Regions from separate parts of the Homo sapiens genome. Here region 2 is linked to region 1. The links come from fine-mapping of genetic effects on gene expression. Tissue or cell type: whole blood. Region 1 holds a variant in brackets; the other region holds the start of a gene. All regions are shown on one strand. Distances are between the middles of the regions.

Region 1 (5,149 bases):
ACCTAAAGTTAATGATTATTGTCATTATGCAGCAACATCTCACATTTTCCAAAGAAAAAAAAAAATCAGTAAGCACAATGGTGTCCCCTTGGAAGCCTTTTAATGCTTATTTTTGGTGAAATAAAATCCATTACCCAGGAAAAAAAATGCCCAGTGCTGAAGATTGTGCTGCAGTCCAGGGCCTGGGTAGTGTCACACACCGTATTTCAATAGGAGAAAAGCCTCGAAATTGAATTACTGCCTGAAGATTTTGTGCGAAAGAGGGCATTGTCAAAGGACCTTGTCAGATCATATTCTGTATGTTTTATAAGGCATCTCATAGTATATGTTTAAATCTCACAGATTTTATGCTGGGACACAAGAGGCCTGGGGCTGGGAGCACTGAGGTGTTAAAGGACAGAGATACAGTGAAATAAAATGCTGTCGCTCCAGTCTCTGTCATAATTCTCTCAGCTTACAAAGTGATCTTAGAAAGAGAAAGAGAAGGAAAGAGAGAGTGTGTGTGCATTTTTTGGAAGGTAGGATTGAAAGGAATGTCTTTTTTATCTATTATTTAATTACCTTAATTAGGGTTTCTCAACCTTAGCACTATTGACATTTTTGTTACCAGAAAGGGGACCTGATCCAGACCCCAAGAAAGGGGTTTTGGATCTCACACAAGAAAGAATTTGGGGCAAGTCCACAGACTAGAGTGAAAGAAAGTTTATTAAGAAAGCAAAAGAATAAAAGAATGACTACTCCATCGACAGAAAAGCCCTGAGGGCTTCTGGTTGGCTAATTTTATGGTTATTTCTTGATTATATGCTAAATAAGTAGTGGATTATTCATGAGTTTTCCAGGAAAGGGGCAGGGATTTCCCAGAATGAAGGGTTCCTCTTCCTTTTAGGCCATATAGGGTAACTTCTGGATGTTGCTGTGGCATTTGTAAACTGTCATGGTGCTGGTAGGAGTGTCTTTTAGCATGTTAATGCATTATAATTAGCATATAATGAGCAGTGAGAATGACTAGAGATCACTTTTGCTGCCATCTTGGTTTTAGCAAATTTTGGCAGACTTCTTTATTGCATCCTGTTTTATCAGTGGAATCTTTGTGACCTGTATCTTGTGACCTCCTATCATCCTGTGACTACAAATGCATAACCTCCTGAGGATACAGCCCAGCAGGTCTCAGCCTCATTTTACTGAGTCCCTATTCAAGATGGAGTCACTCTGGTTCAAGTGCCTTTGACATTTTGAGCTAGATAATTCTTCATTAGGGAGTGGCAGTGGGCTTGTACCTATACTAGGATATATAGCAGCATCCCTGGCCTCTGCTCACTAGATGCCGGTAACACTATCCACCTCCCAGGCATGATCATCAAAAATGTCTCCAGACATTCCAAATGTACCCAAAGGGGGCAAAATCACCCTCATTAAAAACCACTTACTGGGCCAGGCATGGTGGCTCATGCCTGTAATCCTAGCACTTTGGGAGGCCGAGGCAGGTGGATCACCTGAGGCCAGGAGTTTGAGACCAGCCTGGCCAACATGGCAAAACCCTGTCTCTACCAAAAATACAAAAATTAGCTGCACATGCTGGCAGATGCCTATAATCCCAGGTACTCGGGAGGCTGAGGCAGGAGAATCACTTAAACCTGGTGGGTGGAGGTTGCAGTGAGCTGAGATCGCACCACTGCACTCCAGCCTGGGCAAAAGAGCAAAACTCCATCTCAAAAAAAAAAAAAAAAAAAGAACCACCGACTGGGGCCTCAAAGATTATCACTGGGATCAGGACATGAAGAGTAGAAAGGACGCAATGTCTCTGGTGCCCACTGCAGCTGGCTGTGTGCTCAATGTCTGCCCAGGAAGGAATCTGCTCTAAGCAGAAAATATGATCTGCACCTGCAGAGGGGAAAAAAAAAAAAAGTCAGTTTCCAGAATCTTTCTACCTGTGATGTCATTAAAATTAACTGTAGATGTATTACCAGACTTTCCTCGTCCCCTGCCCAGAAAAGAGAATTCAGGCTTGGGCCATGAATTAGTCAGGGCTCTCCAGAAAAGCAGAAGCAGCAGGATGTGTGTATAGAGGGAGAGATTTAATTTCAGAAACTGGCTTACATTATTATGGAGGCCTGGTAAGCCTAAAATCTCCAGGATAGACCACAGACTGGAGGTCCAGGGAAGAGTTGCAGTGAGACCCAAGGCAGTCTGCTGGCAGAATCCTTTTTGGGCAGGGGAAATCAGTCTTTGTTCCATACAGCCTTCAAATGACTAAATGAGGCCCAGAGGCCCATCCACATTAGGGAGCGTAATCTGCTTTACTTAAGATCCACCGATTTAAATGTAAATCTAATCCAAAAAGACACCATCACAGAAACATCCAGAATAATGTTTGAACAATTATCTGGGCACTGTGACCCATCCAACTTAACACATAAAATTAACCATCGCAACCCATTTCCTGACTCCACCCTCTGAGAAGTGCCTGGCCCAGCCAGATGGGTTCTCTGGCTTTCATGATGAGAGAATGAAGAAGAAAAGGGAGGCAAGATAACAGGAGGCAGTCAGGGAGGAGGCTGAAGGAGGCTTTGGTTTTGTGTGTGTGGAGAGAGGTAGATGTAGAGAACTGGGTCATGAGAGAGTGAATGGCACAGGTTTATAAAACAGGATTTCAAGAATATCAGTGAAGAGTGTCATCATCAAAGTACTCAAAATCATACAAATAAAGGAGCTGAGTTATTTGTGAAAGCACTTTTGATGGTGTTGGCTGTGTTCTTTTTCATTGCAACACGTTTTTGGGACTTATCTATGTGGGTGTCTAGGCATTACACATATGACAGAGCCTCCATTGTGGCCAACAG[G/T]TTCCTCAGGTGGTGTGGTTACTGCAGCTGTGAGCCAACTTCAGTGTATTTATTTAGCCATTAACAACAGTAGAGAGGCCCATCTTTTCCTCTAACGGTCATTTCCTTCTTGCCTGAACACCTCCAGGGAAACTCCCCCAACCCCTTTTCAAAGGAAGTTTTCTTTCAGTCCATGATGAATGGGCAAGGTGGCCTGAAGGGAACATGGCCCACCCTCCAGTCTTAGCTAATTGCTGCAGGAATGGATGCTGGTGGGCCAGCATATATATATAAATATAAATGGATATTTATAACCTGACACGTCCACCCTACTGCTGTGTCCGGTTTCCATTGGCTGGAATGGAACCTCACATTCTGTATTTGTCCTGATTGGCTAGCAGCTTAGAACTTTCTAAAGAGGCAAAGGCAGAGGAGAACAAAGGAAGGAGGAAGTAACTTATGGAATGCTGGGAAAGGTGAAAACCCTCCAAATAAGGAAGAGGAACAGGCTATGACCTAATGCTTGTTTGGACCAGCATAAGCATGCCAGGGCAAATATTTAGGCTAAATTGTGGGAGCTAAGAACACAAAGCACATTGATTTCTTTATTATGGCTAGCAGATATCTAAGAATGTTAGCACAGGTCTTTGAATAAATTTTGCTTCTAAGAGAAGTTACTATTTATACCTAATTAGACAGGGAAGAAAAGAGAAACCTCTACTTTACTTTTTACACAAAAAGGTGGATAATCTAAAAGAAATCTTATATTAGTGATGATGCTGGTGGTGGAGATTGTGATGAAGGCAATGGTGATAATGATGATCATGATGGTAACAACAATGGGACACTGGTGGTAGTGATAGCAATCATGGTGTTGGTGATGCTCATGATGATTGTGGCAAAAGTAATCGTGGTGATGATCTGATTCTTATGATGATGCTGATGATGAAGCTGGTGATGATGGTGGTGGTGGTGGTGATGATTGTGATGGTGATAATGACAAAGTTGATGATGATGGTGATGATGGGAATGGTGATAGTGATGCCAGAAGCAACCACTCATTGAGTGCTTTAATTTTACCAGATCTACTTCTGATCAGATCTCTCAATTTCTTGGGTTAATATGCAGAGGAAATGAGGTCATAGATGCAAAAGCTTCTGAAAATGATTAAATCAATCATGACATTAATAATTTGTTTATTAACCACTTACTGTAACACTGCACTGAGCTCAGTGCTTTAGGCAGATATTTTCTCATAACAACTCTATCATAGATGTCATTTTTTATGTTTGACTGCTGACAGTTTTCAAGCTTCCACCATTCCCGTTCCCTTTGCCCCAAGTCTGGGCAAGCTGATAAGAAAGCCCAAATACTCCCTCCCTTGGCACCAGTGGGAAAAGTCAAGCTGTGCAAAAGTCAAGCTGTGTGTGATTGTAGGAACTCAAATCCCAGCCCCATCTTCTAACCACAATAAAAACCAAAGGCACTGCCACTTTGAGCCATTTTCAGACCAACTTGGGTGCCTCCCAAACCCTCCCAAAAAGACTCATGAACTGAGTAAAAAATATTTTCCTCCACTTTTGGTGCACTTGTGACATCATCAATTTCAATATTTGAACCAATTCGGGGTTGGGGGTCGTTGATCCTGCCCTCTTCACAGGGCAACCACAAAGTAAGCTCCATGAAATAGGGAATCTTATTGTTCTTATTTTATTGATAAAGAAACAGAGGATCAGAGAGGTAAATTAACTTGTTTCACATCACCGCAGCTAGCTAATGGCAAAGACAGGATTCTGTTTAACTCCAGGACCTGAGTGTGAATCAACCAGACTATATTTTCTCCATTTCTCAGGGTGATTTTAAAAATGAAGCAGGATACTTATGGTGGAAGATCCTTGAAAAACTGAAAGCATTTGCTATGGTCTGAATGTTTGTGTTTTTCCAAAATTCATAGGTTGAAATTCTAAACCCCAAGGCTGGGGGAATGGGATGGGGGGGCTTTGGGAAATAATTAGGTCATTAGGGCAGAGCCCTCAAGAATGGGATTAGAGCCCTTACAAAAGAGGCCCAAGAAAGACCTCTTATCTCTTCCGCCGTGTGAGGACACAGCAAGAAGGTGCCATCTATGAACCAGAATATGGTCTCTCACCAGACACTGAATCTGCTGGCCTCTTGATCTTGGACTTTTCCAGCCTCCAGAACTGTGAGAAATAATTTTCTGTTGCTCATAAGCTCCCCAGTTATGGTACTTTGCTATAGAAACCCAAACAAACTAAGACAGGGTCTGTTCACTTTCTCACTCTTTCAATCATTGACAACCATTTTTATAA
Region 2 (5,149 bases), 38 kb after region 1:
TGTATTTTTAGTAGAGATGGGGTTTCACTGTATTAGCCAGGATGGTCTCAATCTCCTGACCTCATGATCCGCCCGCCTCAGCCTCCCAAAGTGCTGGGATTACAGGGGTGAATGAGCAGCACCTGCAAGATCCCTGCCCTCTTGGGATTCGCTTTCCAGAAGAGTGAGACAGGTGACAAGTAAACAATAGTCAGGAAATATCATTTCAGGCTGTTAAGTTCGATAACGAAAAGGAAACAAAATTGCACCTGTGATTAGCAGACTCTTGGCCCCCTAATGGGATTAGGTCTGCATCCTGATCCCCAGAGCATGCGAATATATAACATAACTGAGCAAAGGGGAATTAAGGTCTCAAATGGAATTAGAGTTGCCGATCAGCTGACCTTAGGATAGGGAGAGTAACCTGGATTATCCAAGTGGGCCCAGTGTTGTCACCGGGTCCTTAAAAGTGGAAGATGAAAGCATAAAAGAGTTAGAGGGAGATGTAAGGAAGGAAGAATTGTCATGGAGACCCAACATTGCTGGCTTTGAAGATGGAGGAAGGGGCCATGAGCCAAGAAATGCAGGTGGCTTCTAGGCACTAGAAAAGACAAAAAATGTTTCTTCTGGAGTCTCCAGAAAGGAATGCAAGCCTGCCAGCACCGTGATTCCAACCCAGTGAGACCCATATCAAGCTCCTGCCCTCCAGAGTGGTTAGCTTCACAGCTGTGTTATGAAGCTGCTGGTCTGTGTTTGTTTGTTACTGCAGCTCCTCAAAGCACCCCTCCTCAGAGAGGCCTTCCCTGACCACCTGCTGAGGAAAGTTCTCCTGGAATCACTTTCATGGGTTCTTTCACAGAATGTCTCAATTTTAAATGATTTGCTTGTGAAGGAGTTCCGAAGTAACTCCCCAAAATATGCCACTTTGAGACTTTGAACTGAGGTCACTTGGGGAACAGCAACTGCAGGGAGGGGCTTTCCGAGTTTTCCTTTTCTGTCTAAAGACAGATTGTCCAGAGCAAACGCAGTGGCCATGAATCTCCGCCCAGGGAATCTCATCAGCCGGAAGGACTGGCTCGTTTCACAGGAGTCTAAAGGTCCACACTACGTCCAGATAGCCTTTGTCACAGGCTGTCGTCACCTGTCCTGCTGAGGGCCCACTCCTCTTCCCCAGAAATCATTTACTCTCCACTACGGTGCTGACACCCCACCCCTCTCTCCCTTGTGAAGAGGGTATACAAGCTTCTAAATCTTACTGGGTGTGGGGAATTCCTTTTCTTTCCTGGGATGCCCCCATGCATGTGATAAATGTCTGTACCTTTTCTCCTGTTATTCTCCCTGCTGTCAGTTTAATTCCTGACCAGCCAAGGCAGCTAGAAGGGTAGAGAAAGCCATTTTTACTCCCCTACACTTGTGTGCTTATTTATATTGGAAGTGAGGGTCAGGAGGGCCCCCCTGAGGAAGTGACACTGCAGGTCAGGTCTGAACAAGACCCAGGCACCAGTTATGGGCAGAACCGTCCTAGCAGAATAAGGGAGAGCAAGAGGCAAGGAGATGGGACAGAGGACAGGACCAGTCCTAAAGCCAGTCAGAGTGAAGGAAAGCACTGCCTCGCCCTGGGATACATCCTGAGGGGGCCCACGTGCCTACCTGGGGATGGGCAGCTGGAACAGCAGAACTGGGGCCACTCCCGGCACCTCATCACACAGGGTCCGCTCCCTGCTCTTCCCTTGCACCAGCTCCCTGGGCATGCATCTTCATTTCCTGACCAGCTGCTGGACCTCATGCCCCTGAATATTCCTTCCAAGTGGGCCACACAGCCTACGGAAGCATTCAGAGTCAGCAAACAAGGGAGGAAGTTGCCAGGAGCCTGTGTGCCAAGGACCGAGGCAAGAACTCCTCCTAAGAGGAAAGCGCTTGGGAAAGAGACCATGATTTGTGACAAAGACTGGGAGTGCTGGATCAGGGGAGGGGGAAGCTGAGCCCCTCTCAGTGCACCTTGGGTCCTAAGGAGAGAGAAGGGAGACAAAGGCTGCATTCACCATTTCACTAAAAGTCTGCCACTGAGCAGCCCTTCTTTTCTTTCTCCGTCTTTCCCTTTCTCCACACCCCACCCCCTCCACCTTTAACCTCTAATTCAATATGCCCCACCCAAATCCAGAATCTTTTCCCAAACCACTTCCTCTCCCCCATCTTCCTCACTCTTGACCAAGAAGCCTCCCTTTTCCATCATCCAAGCTCAATATCTTGCAGTTGCCTTTGACCTCCTCCATCTTTCCTGTCCTGAGTTTCTTGCCTGGGTTCCCCTCTTTCCAGTCAGCCCCTCCAGCACCCCCCCACACTCTAGTCCAGAACCTCAAAGCAGGTGATCATCAGCTGCAGTTACTCGCTCTACCAGCCCCACACCTCCCAGCGCCTGGGGAGGTTGTTAGCACAGGGTCGGGTTTTTTGTAAGGTTTTTTGGCTGTTTTCGAAGGCAGATTGTGGTATCTCATTCCTGATTAAGTTGCTTGAATTCCCACCCAAACCTCCCTTGCCAAGGTCAGGATAGCTCTACAGGAAGGGAACAGGCATGGCCCTTCTCCCCAGGCCCCAGCCAGGCCCTAAGCCACTCCTCAGCCAGGCAAGACTTTAGACTCATTTCCTGCCCCGTGAGCACTTAGAATAAACTTCCTCCTTCCTTGTGAGATTGTTTAACAGGGCAGGGAGAGTTGATGGCAAACTTCCTCAAAGGAGGGGCAGAGCCTGCGCAGGGCAGGAGCAGCTGGCCCACTGGCGGCCCGCAACACTCCGTCTCACCCTCTGGGCCCACTGCATCTAGAGGAGGGCCGTCTGTGAGGCCACTACCCCTCCAGCAACTGGGAGGTGGGACTGTCAGAAGCTGGCCCAGGGTGGTGGTCAGCTGGGTCAGGGACCTACGGCACCTGCTGGACCACCTCGCCTTCTCCATCGAAGCAGGGAAGTGGGAGCCTCGAGCCCTCGGGTACGTCCCCCCAAGAATGGAAAGGGCTATGGTTCCAGGTACACATGATTGACAGAGGGGAAAATGGAGGTGGGGAGGGTGGGAAATAGGAGTGAAAGAGCCTGAGACAGAATGATGAAAGGAAAGAAAGAAGGAAACCACATAATCGAAGAGATTCCTGAGATCAGACTCAGGAAGGCAAATAGATTTCATCTGAGGCACCAGGCCTGATCAATGAAATTAGACTGTGATAAAAAGGATTCTGGGGCTGGGTTCGGGCTCAGGCAAAAGCATGCTATGATTGATTAGCTATGTCTGCCATGGGCACAAGAAGGAGCTGTAGGGCATGCCAGCTAGGGATTTGATAACCCACACTGCAGGGTTTTTTCCTTAACCACAGGGGCCCCTCAACATTTATTCTTTCATTCACTCATCTATTGATTCAAAAAAACACATTCCAATGATCAACAGTGAGCCACACAAATATTTGAAAAATGAATAAAAAAGAAAGGAATGTTGTTCTTTGGCCCCAAATCTCATTTTTCTCATAAGGTAATGATCTGAAAAGTTATGACAAAGGTGCATGGACTTGAGAGATTTTCTAGCTATGTAATATTGAGCTAGTCCCTTTCACTAAGACTCAGTTTCCTCATCTGTAAAATGGGAGAGAGAGTCTGAATATCCCCCATCAATCGCTGAAGTTCTCATTGTCTACGCAACTATGATAATCATCACTGAAGTACATAAAATAACATGTATGATGTGCTAAGTGCTCTCCATATAATAACACATTTAATCTTCCTATCACCTCTACAAGGAAAGCACCATGATTATTCCCACTCTGCAGACGGAGAGCCAAGGCAGTGAGAGATTTAATAACTTCCCCAGGCAATCTGGCTGCAAAGCTTTTGCTCCTGCCCACTATGCCACACTGACTCTACACTGCAGTGGATTCTGAGTCCATGGCTGGAAGTGGGCTGCCTGGGTACAAGAGTGTCCTTCTAGATGATTCATCCAGTGAGCATTAATTGGGTCAGGTAAAAAAGACACAATGATTAACAAGATGAGGTATCATACATGGTTCTAACCAGAAAGGGAAAACTTGCACAGATAGTCATTTTCAAAACAGTTTGACATACACCATGGAGATAGCCTGGGAGTCAGGGCAGACTTCTCCCAAGAGAATGCCGGGTCCTTCAGGAGTGAAGGGCAGGGGAGGAAAAGATTGGGTCAGTGGAGAATCTCTGAGAAGGGGGAACAGGAGGAAAGAAAGAGGAGGGCAGAGCAGCTCAAGCAGGAAAGGGGTAGTAGCTGGTGGTGGAAGGTGAAGTCAGTGAGGTTGTTGCGCCCAGGTCTGCACAGGCTAGGGAGGAGTTTGCCATTGCTCAGCATCTGCCCAAATCTGTGCATCTGCCTGTCTGCCCTTGGGCACCTGGAGGTTTAGGGGCTTCTGTCTTATGGCCATGGTGTGCACACCTCTTCCTGAGCTCAACTCCATCTTTACACACAGACCCTGCTGCTTCCCATAGGAATGTTGAAGCCTCCAGAACCCAGGGGCCTAACTTCCTCATTGGCACTTCCCTGCGGTGGGGGATGCTCGAAGTCATCATTTGCCAACATTTCCTGGTGCTGGGGCAGCTGCTCCCCCTTGGAGGAGACCTACCTGTCTACTACTGGCAGTCCTGGTGAGACTTCAAGTGGGCAGCCGACAAGCCTGCCTGGGGGACTGGCAGCCCCCACCCAGCCTGCAGTCCCAGAGGGCAGGTGCCCTGGAGCGGAGCAGACATTTCCTACAGTTGGTGCCAATCCCTTGCTTCTGGAGGCTCAGAGGTTTGCTCCCCCAAGGGTGTGGCCTGGGGAGACAAAGACATAGAGGTTGTGGGGAGAGCAACCCTGCCTTTGGCATTTGAATCCCAGTTCTGCCCTTTTTCCAACCATGTGACCTTAGGCAAGTTGCCTATCTTATTGGCTTGTCTGACCCTCCCTTATCTCAAAAGAATGAGGACGGTAATAAGTTCTTTGGGATTTGACAGTGTGCATTTTGAAAAAGACAATGTGTGCAAAGCATCTACCATGATGCTTGCCACGTAGTAGGTGCACAATATAGGACAGTGCTGTTGTCCAAGCTGTGCACCTTCTATGCACCAGGCAGTCTGCATGGAACTGGGCATTCAGAAATGATTAGACACTGTCTCAGGAAGTTCACAG

What was found. PIP is the estimated chance that this variant, and not a neighbour inherited with it, causes the effect.
Region 2: it holds the start of FAM3D, and the variant in region 1 is the best candidate, but not a certain one, in a credible set for the expression of FAM3D in whole blood (TOPMed, PIP 0.75).

Annotation. Positions count from the first base shown.
Region 1 is chr3:58,702,654-58,707,802 of GRCh38, reverse strand. It overlaps LOC105377109 (a long non-coding RNA gene), which reads right to left. Exons shown (of 3, transcript XR_940879.3): 3 at 1,719-1,881. Among named protein-coding and RNA genes, the nearest start is that of FAM3D, 38 kb to the right of the region's middle. The variant G/T (reference allele first, on the strand shown) is at 2,841.
Region 2 is chr3:58,664,389-58,669,537 of GRCh38, reverse strand. FAM3D (FAM3 metabolism regulating signaling molecule D) reads left to right here and starts at 2,764. Exons shown (of 10, transcript NM_138805.3): 1 at 2,764-2,962. It overlaps LOC105377109 (a long non-coding RNA gene), which reads right to left and starts at 4,905. Exons shown (of 3, transcript XR_940879.3): 1 at 4,605-4,905; 2 at 1,630-1,985.